2 linked regions of the Homo sapiens genome follow. The protein of the gene in region 1 purifies or fractionates together with the protein of each later gene. This does not show direct contact. Each region holds a gene or a part of one and is shown in the gene's direction. Other genes may lie near its edges.

What was found. Proteins that work in one complex are often made in the same cells at the same time.
Region 2: the proteins of COX5A (region 1) and TMBIM4 purify together in Homo sapiens (co-immunoprecipitation; one large-scale study listed by IntAct). This does not show direct contact.

The regions. Positions count from the first base shown.
Region 1 is NC_000015.10:74,923,999-74,928,834, reverse strand, and holds part of COX5A (cytochrome c oxidase subunit 5A, mitochondrial precursor), read left to right. Parts: intron 1-1,947; coding exon 1,948-2,069; intron 2,070-4,836. UniProt on the Homo sapiens protein: Component of the cytochrome c oxidase, the last enzyme in the mitochondrial electron transport chain which drives oxidative phosphorylation.
Region 2 is NC_000012.12:66,167,197-66,171,317, reverse strand, and holds the start of TMBIM4 (protein lifeguard 4), read left to right. Parts: upstream 1-1,321; 5' UTR 1,322-1,366; coding exon 1,367-1,463; intron 1,464-4,121.

The DNA.
Region 1 (4,836 bases):
ACATTCGTATCATGACAACCAAAAATGTTTCTAGGCATTACCCAGTGTCTCCTGAGGGATGAAGTCACCCTTAATTGAAAACCACTGCTATAGCAATAAGGCTAGATGAGCAAAAGGTAACAGTTTTGTACATTTCAAACAATTTACATAGCACGGGCGCGGTGGCTCACGCCTGTAATCCCAGCACTTTAGGAGGCCAGGGTGGGCGGATCACGAGGTCAGGAGATCAAGACCATTCTGGCTAACATGGTGAAACCCCGTCTCTACTAAAAATACAAAAAAATTAGCCGGACGTGGTGGCGGGCGCCTGTAGTCACAGCTACTCGGGAGGCTGAGGCAGGAGAATGGCGTGAACCCGGGAGGCAGAGCTTGCAGTGAGCCGAGATCGCGCCACTGCACTCCAGCCTGGGCAACAGAGTGAGACTCTGTCTCAGAAAAAAAAAAAAGAATTTACACAAAGCAGTCATTTGGTTCCCTTCCCCTTTGGGTGATGGTTTGGGTTTTTTGTTATTTTTGCATTGTTTTGCCATGAATAAGTATCTAAGTAAGTTAGAACTTGTCTTTCCTAAATTTGCAGATGCACACTTAACATGAAAAAATAGAATTAGGTGTAGGGTAATTTATCTCATACCAAAAATTCAATCTCAATGACTATCGTATTCACTGGTATCCTTTGTTTAAATATTTTAAAGTAATAAAAGCAAGAAACCTAAGTGCTTTAAACTTCTCTGCAGAAATGTAATGATTCCCTTTTGCTACAACCAATAGAATTCTTACTGAACAATCTGGAGTAGAAGTAATAAAAAGAACAATTATGTATTCCCATTAAGAGAATCTTAAATTTTATTATGTGTCATTTTGTGCAGATCTGAAAGTAATCATGCCCAATCATTTTCTGGTTGAATGTTTATGAGTCTGTGTACTAATGTTTCTCTATAATATCTCCTTAATGTCCTCATTTAGGCTTCATTAACTCTACGCATTTCTCTGGCTGTTTTTAGGCTGTTTTCCAGTTGAATCTCTTTTATTTTGGTTTTTTTGTTTGTTTGTTTTGTTTTGTTTGAGATGGAGTTTCTCTCTTATTGCCCAGGCTAGAGTGCAATGGCGCGATCTCAGCTCACTGCAACCTCCACCACCTGGGTTCAAGTGATTCTCCTGCCTCAGCCTCGAGAGTAGCTGGAATTACAGGCATGTGCCACCACGCCCGGCCAATTTTGTATCTTTAATAGAGACAGGGTTTCTCCATGTTGACCAGGCTGGTCTTGAACCCCTGACCTCAGGTGATCCACCTGAGCCCAGCCTTGAATCTCTTTTAAAGCATCCAAAATGTGTTCATTGTACTAAGAGTTAAAGATAGGAGGGCCGGATGTGGTGGCTCATGCCTGTAATCCCAGCACTTTGGGAGGCCGAGGCAGGTGGATCACGAGGTCAGGAGTTCAAGGCCAGCCAGGCCAAGATGCTGAAACCCCGTCTCTACTAAAAATACTAAAATTAGCTGGGCTTGGTGGCACCCGCCTGTAATCCCAGCTACTTGGTAGGCTGAGGCAGGAGAATCACTTGAACCCAGGTGGCAGCGGTTGCAGTAAGCTGAGGTGGCACCACTGTACTCCAGCCTGGGTGACAGAGCAAGACTCCATCTCCAAAAAAAAAGTTAGGAGTTGAAAATGACCCTCTTGTTCTCAAAGGGGAAAAAAAAAACTCAGGATTTTTTCCTTCAATCTGCGTGCTGTTGCATAGTTCTTTCTTTCCACTGATTCACTAAGGGAGATCCACTGTGATCTTATTATCTAGAATTTGTTAAAGGTAGGTTTCTCTCATTTTATAGGTAAGAGAATGGAGACCCAGACAGATAAGATCATACATCAGTGATTCAGTAAAAATATAAATAACTCATAGTTTAAGTGAGGCTCTTCGAGGTTGACATGGCCCTTCTTTTTAATTTTGCAGGGATAAACACACTTGTTACCTATGATATGGTTCCAGAGCCCAAAATCATTGATGCTGCTTTGCGGGCATGCAGACGGTTAAATGATTTTGCTAGTACAGTTCGTATCCTAGAGGTTGTTAAGGTCAGTGAAATAATAATGCTAAAATTGTTCTGTAAATGAGTGGGCTATTGCTGAGGTATCAGAATATTCTGTATTTTTGAATTTGTTAAAATGCCTAAAATGAGTCCTTATATAACTAGAAGGAATGTACATTGCAGTTAAAATCTTTCTAGAGGCTACTTTGGCAGCATTTATTCAAGGCCTTACAAATTGTACATGATACACTTTTGTTCAGCAATTCCATTTAAGAATTTATCTTTTTTCTTTTTTCTCTCTTTTTTTTTTTTCTTTCTTTTTTAAGAATTTATCTTGGCCGTGTGTGATGGCTCATGCCTGTAATCCCAGCACTTTAGGAGGCTAAGGCGGGTGGATCATGCAATGTCAGGAGTTTGAGACCAGCCTGGCCAACATGGTGAAACCCTGTCTCTACTAAAAATATAAAAATTAGGCCAGGCGCGGTGGCTCACGCCTGTAATCCCAGCTCTTTGGGAGGCCGAGGCGGGCGGATCACGAGGTCAGGAGATCGAAACCATCCTGGCTAACACGGTGAAACCCTGTCTCTACTAAAAATACAAAAAAATTAGCCGGGTGTGGTGGCAGGCGCCTGTAGTCCCAGCTACTCAGGAGGCTGAGGCGGGAGAATGGCGTGAACCCGGGAGGCAAAGCTTGCAGTGAGCCAAGACAGCGCCACTGCACTCCAGCCTGGGTGACAGAGCAAGACTCTGTCTCAAAAAAAAAAAAAAAAAAAAAAAAATTAGCTGGGCATGGTGGCACATGCCTGTAATCCCAGCTACTTGGGAGGCCCAGGCAGGAGAATTGCTTGAACCCGGGAGGCGGAGGTAGCAGTGAGCTGAGATCGCACCATTGCACTCCAGCCTGGGCAACAAGAGAGAAACTCCGTCTCTAAAAAAAAAAAGAAAGGAATTTATCAAGGAAATAATAAAGGATATATAAAGATTTAACTACAAAGTGTATTCATCTTCTTGCTATTTGTCATACGAAATGTTAGGAATTCTTAAGAGGGAGCTTCCCAGAACTGGTTATACTACACAACTGTTGATACTGTAGAAATGTGTTTGACTTTAAACATATTTGTGTCGGCTGGGCACGGTGGCTCACGCCTGTAATCCCAGCACTTTGGGAGACTGAGGCAGGTGGATCACCTGAGGTCAAGAGTTCGAGACCAGCCTGACCAAGATGGAGAAACCCCATCTCTACTGAAAATAAAAAATTAGCCGGGCGTGGGGGTGCATGCCTGTAATCCCAGCTAGTCGGGAGGCTGAGGCAGGGGAATTGCTTGAACCCGGGAGGCAGAGGTTACAGTGAGCCAAGATGGCACCATTGCACTCCAGCCTGGGCAACAAGAGAGAGAAACTCCATCTCAAAAAATATATATATACATTATATGAAAACATAGGAGGATATATACTAATTTTCCTCCTTCTTATTTGGTCATAATTTCTGAGTTTATTTATTTTTTCGAGACAGAGTCTCACTCTGTCGCCCAAGCTGGAGTGCAATCATTGCGTGATCTCAGCTCACTGCAACCTCCGAGGTCTCCTGGGTTCAAGCAATTCTTCTGCCTCAGCCTCCCGAGTAGCTGGGATTACAGGCTAATTTTGTATTTTAAGAGACGGGGTTTCTCCATGTTGGTCAGGCTGATCTCAAACTCCTGACCTCAGTTGATCCGCCCGCCTCAGCCTCCCAAAGTGCTGGGATTACAGGCGTGAGCCACCACGCCCGGCCGGCACTTTCTTAGTTCTTTTGACTTCTTATTCGTTCCTAAGGAACCTTGTGACAGCACAGGTGTAACTATATATTACAGTGAAAAGTCTCCAGCCCTGGACATATGTATTCTCAAAGTACAGCTCTCCATGAAAAGATACTGTGGTCTGTAAGAAAGAAACTTAAGGTCCGTTAACAGCAAAAGTGTGACATTACTTTATCTATAATGGGTAAGATAATTAAGGGTTCTGTAGGCTATCAATCCATTCAGCACTGGTAGTTAATTCAGTTAAGGTCTCAAATTGGAGGCAAATGAAAAAACTTTTCCCGTTAACTTAATTATTCGTGTTGCCTGCTGGGCATGTCTAATTGCCTTCACAAAATTCTGTCATCACTACCTTCTTTTCCAGTAATTCTAGACTTTAAGATGTTCTGGATTTAGTCCAATTGCAGTTATTCTCAAGGTATTTCAAAAGCCTACCTTGAACAGTACATATATAAGTTGCCCTCTTTATTTTTATTTAATTATTATTATTTTTTTGAGACAGAGTCTCGCTCTGTCCCCTAGGCTGGAGTGTAGTGTCATGATCTCAGCTCACTGCAACCTCCGCCTCCCTAGTTCAAGCATTCCCGAGTAGCTGGGATTACAGGGGCGTGCCACCACACCCAGCAAATTTTTGTATTTTTAGTAGAGACGGGGTTTCACCATGTTGGTCAGGATGGTCTCGAACTCCTGACCTTGTGATCCACCCGCCTTGGCCTCCCAAAGTGCTGGAATTACAGGCATGAGCCACGGCACCCAGCAAGTTGCCCTACTTACCGAACAAATGTGTTAACTTAAAAGTAGATGACCTGTTTTGTTTTGTTTTGTTTCGTTTTTTGAGATAGAATCTTGTTCTGTCACCCAGGCTGGAGTGCAGTGGCGTGATCTTGGCTCACTGCAACCTCCGCTTCCCGGGTTCAAGCCGATTCTCCTGCCTCAGCCTCCCGAGTAGCTGAGATTACAGGCATGTGCCACTACACCTGGCTGATTTTTGTATTTTTAGTAGAGACGGGATTTCAC
Region 2 (4,121 bases), on another chromosome or scaffold:
ATGCTTGTAAAATGTTTGTAAAATCATAAAAGATAAAGTGTTTTTTTGTTTTGTTTTGTTTTTCTTGTCATTGTGGAAGTGACGTTAGTTCTTTTGGCAAAGGCTTCTGAGAACATCAAGTTTAAGGATTTAGTTTAGAATAGACTGTTCCACAACTGTTCTGAATTCCACTTGCTAAGTGTTCGGGTGTTGTGGTTAAGGTGAGGACTGGGCAATGTGGGTAGATCAGAGTAAACTCATCAAAACAATTCCAAGGGACCCTAGGATGACACTACTCTGGGTATGTCTACACCTCTTTATATTGGAATGACAACAATATCATGAATATTCACTCTAATCCATTGTATTTGCCACCATCATCTCTCTCTTACAGTAATACAACTTTATCCCCTTTTCTCTGCCTTTGGTAATGGCCCTCTTCAATGTATTCTACTTCTGGCCTAGGATGATCTGGCCTTTGTTTATCTATCCAGCCTCATTCTTTGCCACCTGTCCCCTACACCAGCTGAGCTTCACCGTCTCCCTCTTTGCAGACGTTGGTCCCTTGAGGCCCAGCCTACATCACTGCTCTTTCTCTGGTTGGCTCCTACTTGCCTTTCAGGATTAAATATTACTTCATTCAGAAAGCCTGGTTTATAGAAAGTGCTCAATAAATGTAGGTATTATTATTATTTTAAAATAATAGAAGTAAAAATGCATCCTCGGTGTGATTATTGAAAAAGTGGATGAATGAGATGGGTATTTGTTGAGTGGATGGGTGACTGGGACATGGGTTCTATCACTTTAGCAACTCTCCAAGGTGAAAGGACTTAAAGTGTGTTCAGGCTGGGCGCGGTGGCTCACGCCTGTAATCTCAGCACTTTGGGAGGCCGAGGCGGGCGGATCACGAGGTCAGCAGATCGAGACCATCCTGGCTAACATGGTGAAACCTCGTCTCTGCTAAAAATATAAAAAAATTAGCCTGGCGTGGTGGCAGGCGCCTGTAATCTCAGCTATTCGGGAGGCTGAGGCAGGAGAACCGCTTGAACCCGGGAGGCGGAGGTTGCGGTGAGCCGAGATCGTGCCATTGCACTCCAGCCTGGGCAACAAGAGTGAAACTCCATCTCAAAAAAAAAAAAAAAAGTGTGTTGAGAAAAGTTTCACTTCAGATGACGCCGGGAATGTAAACCGTTTTCTCTTCCATTCTAACTCGGAGCCATCCCCGCTTTCTCCGCCCAGCTGGAATTTTTGAAGCGAGAAAATCGACTCGCTCGGTGTTCGCCCGCCGACGCCGCACGGCTTGCTGGGGCTGGGCTCTTCCTCGCGGAAGTGGGGAGGAGGCGGTTGCGGTTAGTGGACCGGGACCGGTAGGGGTGCTGTTGCCATCATGGCTGACCCCGACCCCCGGTACCCTCGCTCCTCGATCGAGGACGACTTCAACTATGGCAGCAGCGTGGCCTCCGCCACCGTGCACATCCGAATGGGTACGTTGTCCCCTCTCCAGTGCCTCCCAGCCGCTTGTCTGCACTGCTCGGCCTCTAGAAGCCGACTTCCGGCTTCCGAGGGAGAGCGGCCATCTCCTGGGACTCACAGGGAGTGCTCACTGAGCTCCCGGCCCTCCTTCTCCGGGTACCAGAGGACTGGCGCCCTCCTCAGGGAGTCGGGGAGGCGCTTCCTCCCCTCCTAGCGGGTGTGGGAGGGCGCCAGGCCCAGAAGGCTTGCGGCTGTCCTGTGTGCGCCCCGGCTCCCCAGCGGGCGCCGCGGTGTAGGAAGGGACAGATGGAAACCGCCGCAGCCTGAATTTGGCATCTTGAAGTGAAAAGAAACGTCGTGGAAATGAGTCGGTTGATCACTGTGACTGACGTACACACGAGTGGAATCCACGGCCTGATGTTTTTGTTCTGTGGGGTTTCGCGTTACAGGCTTATATTTACCGTCCTGTGCTAGGCTGGAAGCTCCCTGACGGCACTATTTCCTCTCCGCAGGGCCCAGAATGCAACAGGTCTTTGAGGATTATTGAGGAAGTTGCTCAACACAGAAGCTTCCTAAGTCAGTCTAAATTGTGTTTTAAGTTATTACGTAGTAGCCAATGGGCAGAAATTTTTGAATTTAAAATGCTCAGCTTCATCTACGTGGAAGCCATTGCCTGCTCTAGTTTGGTCATTTGATCGCCGAAACAGCCCCAGACTTTCAGCCTGTTTAGGCAGCTGGAACTTGTTCTGGAAAAGGAAAGATGAAGATAGTTCTGATGTGCTAAGAATCTTAGTGCCTAGAACTTGTTCTGGAAAAGGAAAGATGAAGATAGTTCTGATGCACCAAGAATCTTGGTGCCTAGCATTTATATTTTTGGAATTGAATTTTGAAATTATTTTGGCCAGTGAACTCAGCTTTTTTTTAAAAAAAATTAATTGTGGTAAAATACAGGTAACATAAAATTTACCGTCTTAACTATTTTTAAGTGTATAGTTCAGTAGTGTTAAGTTATTCACATGGTTGTGCACTGTTAAAAGAAAAACTTTAGACACATTAAATCTAACGGAGTTTGAGCACAGAATGATTTGCGAATTGGGCAGGTCCCGGAACCAGAATAAGGTTCAGAGTGATGAGTCCTGCCGCTTGGTGGGAGAAAATTTATGGAGAGAGAAAGTAAAGTGAGGTACAGAAAATAGAAGTGAGGTACAGAAAGAGTTGATTGGTTACAGCTTGGTTTTTGCCCGTTTGAACATGGTTTGAACACGTGGCCATCTTTGGCTGAAACTCAGTGATTGGTTCAAGCGTAGGTTACAGCCTGTTTACTAGGTTATAGTTCACTATATACCGAGAACCCCTAGGCTGAACTTAAAATATCTAAAGGCATAGCTTTAGACTAAACTTATATACCATCCAATATCCAGAACTTTTTAATCTTGCAAAACTGAAACTCTATACCTATTAACTCCCCATTCCTTCCTTCCCCCAGTCCCTGGAACCACCATTTCACTTTCTCTCTCTGTGAATTTGGCTACTCTAGATACAATCAGTATTTGTTTTTTTGTGGTTGGCTTTTTTCAATTAGCATAATGTCTTCAAATACATCCATGTTGTGGCATATGTCAGAATTTCCTTTTTTTTTTTTTTTGAGACAGGGTCTCGCTTTGCCACCGAGGCTGGAGTGCAGTGGTGAGATCACTGCTCACTGCAGCCTCTACCTTCTGGGCTCAGGTGATCCTCCCGCCTCAGCCTCTCGAGTAGTTGGGATTACAAATGCAGGTCACCAGGCCTGGCTAATTTTTTTGTACTTTTGGTAGAGACGGGTTTCTCCATGTTGCCCCATCCGATCTTGAACTCCTGGACTCAAGCGATCCTCCCACCTCAGCCTCCCAAAGTCCTGGGATTACAGGCATGAGCCACTGCACCTGGCTGCAGAATTTCCTTTTTAAGACAGTAGTAGTACTTTGTATGTATATACCAAATTTTGTTTATTCATCCATTGATGGACATTTGTGTTGCTTCTACCTCTTGACTACTTTGAATAGTGCTGTCATGAATATAGGTGTGCACATACCTCTTCAAGACCGTGCTTTAATTCTTTTGAATATATACCCAGAAGTGGAATTGCTGGATTGTGTGGTAGTTCTATTTTTAATTATTTAAGGAACGGCCATACTGTTTTTGATAGGGGCTACATCATTTTACATTCTCAGCAACAGTGCACAAGGGTTCACCTTTTTCTACATCCTTGCCAACACATTCCGTTCTTTTCTTTCTTTTTAAAATGAAAATAGCCATCAAATGAGTGTGAGGTGGTATGTCCTTTTGGTTTTGATTTGCATTTCTCTAATGATTTAATGATGTTGCACATTTTAAAAGTATGCGTGTGGGGCATTTATACATTTTCCTTGGAGAAATGTTATTCAAGTCCTTTGCCCAATTAATTTTTTAAAAGCAATTTTAGGTTCATAGCAAAATTTAGCAGAAAGAACAGAGTTCTTATATACCCTTTCTGCTTTTCCCCAAGCCTCTTGCACTAATAACGTTCTGTACCAGAGTGGTATGTTTGTTACAATCAGTGAACCTAGACTGGACACCTCATTATCACCCAAGACCAAGGTTTACGTTAAGGTTCGCTCTTAGTGTTGTATATTCTATGAGTTTGACAAATG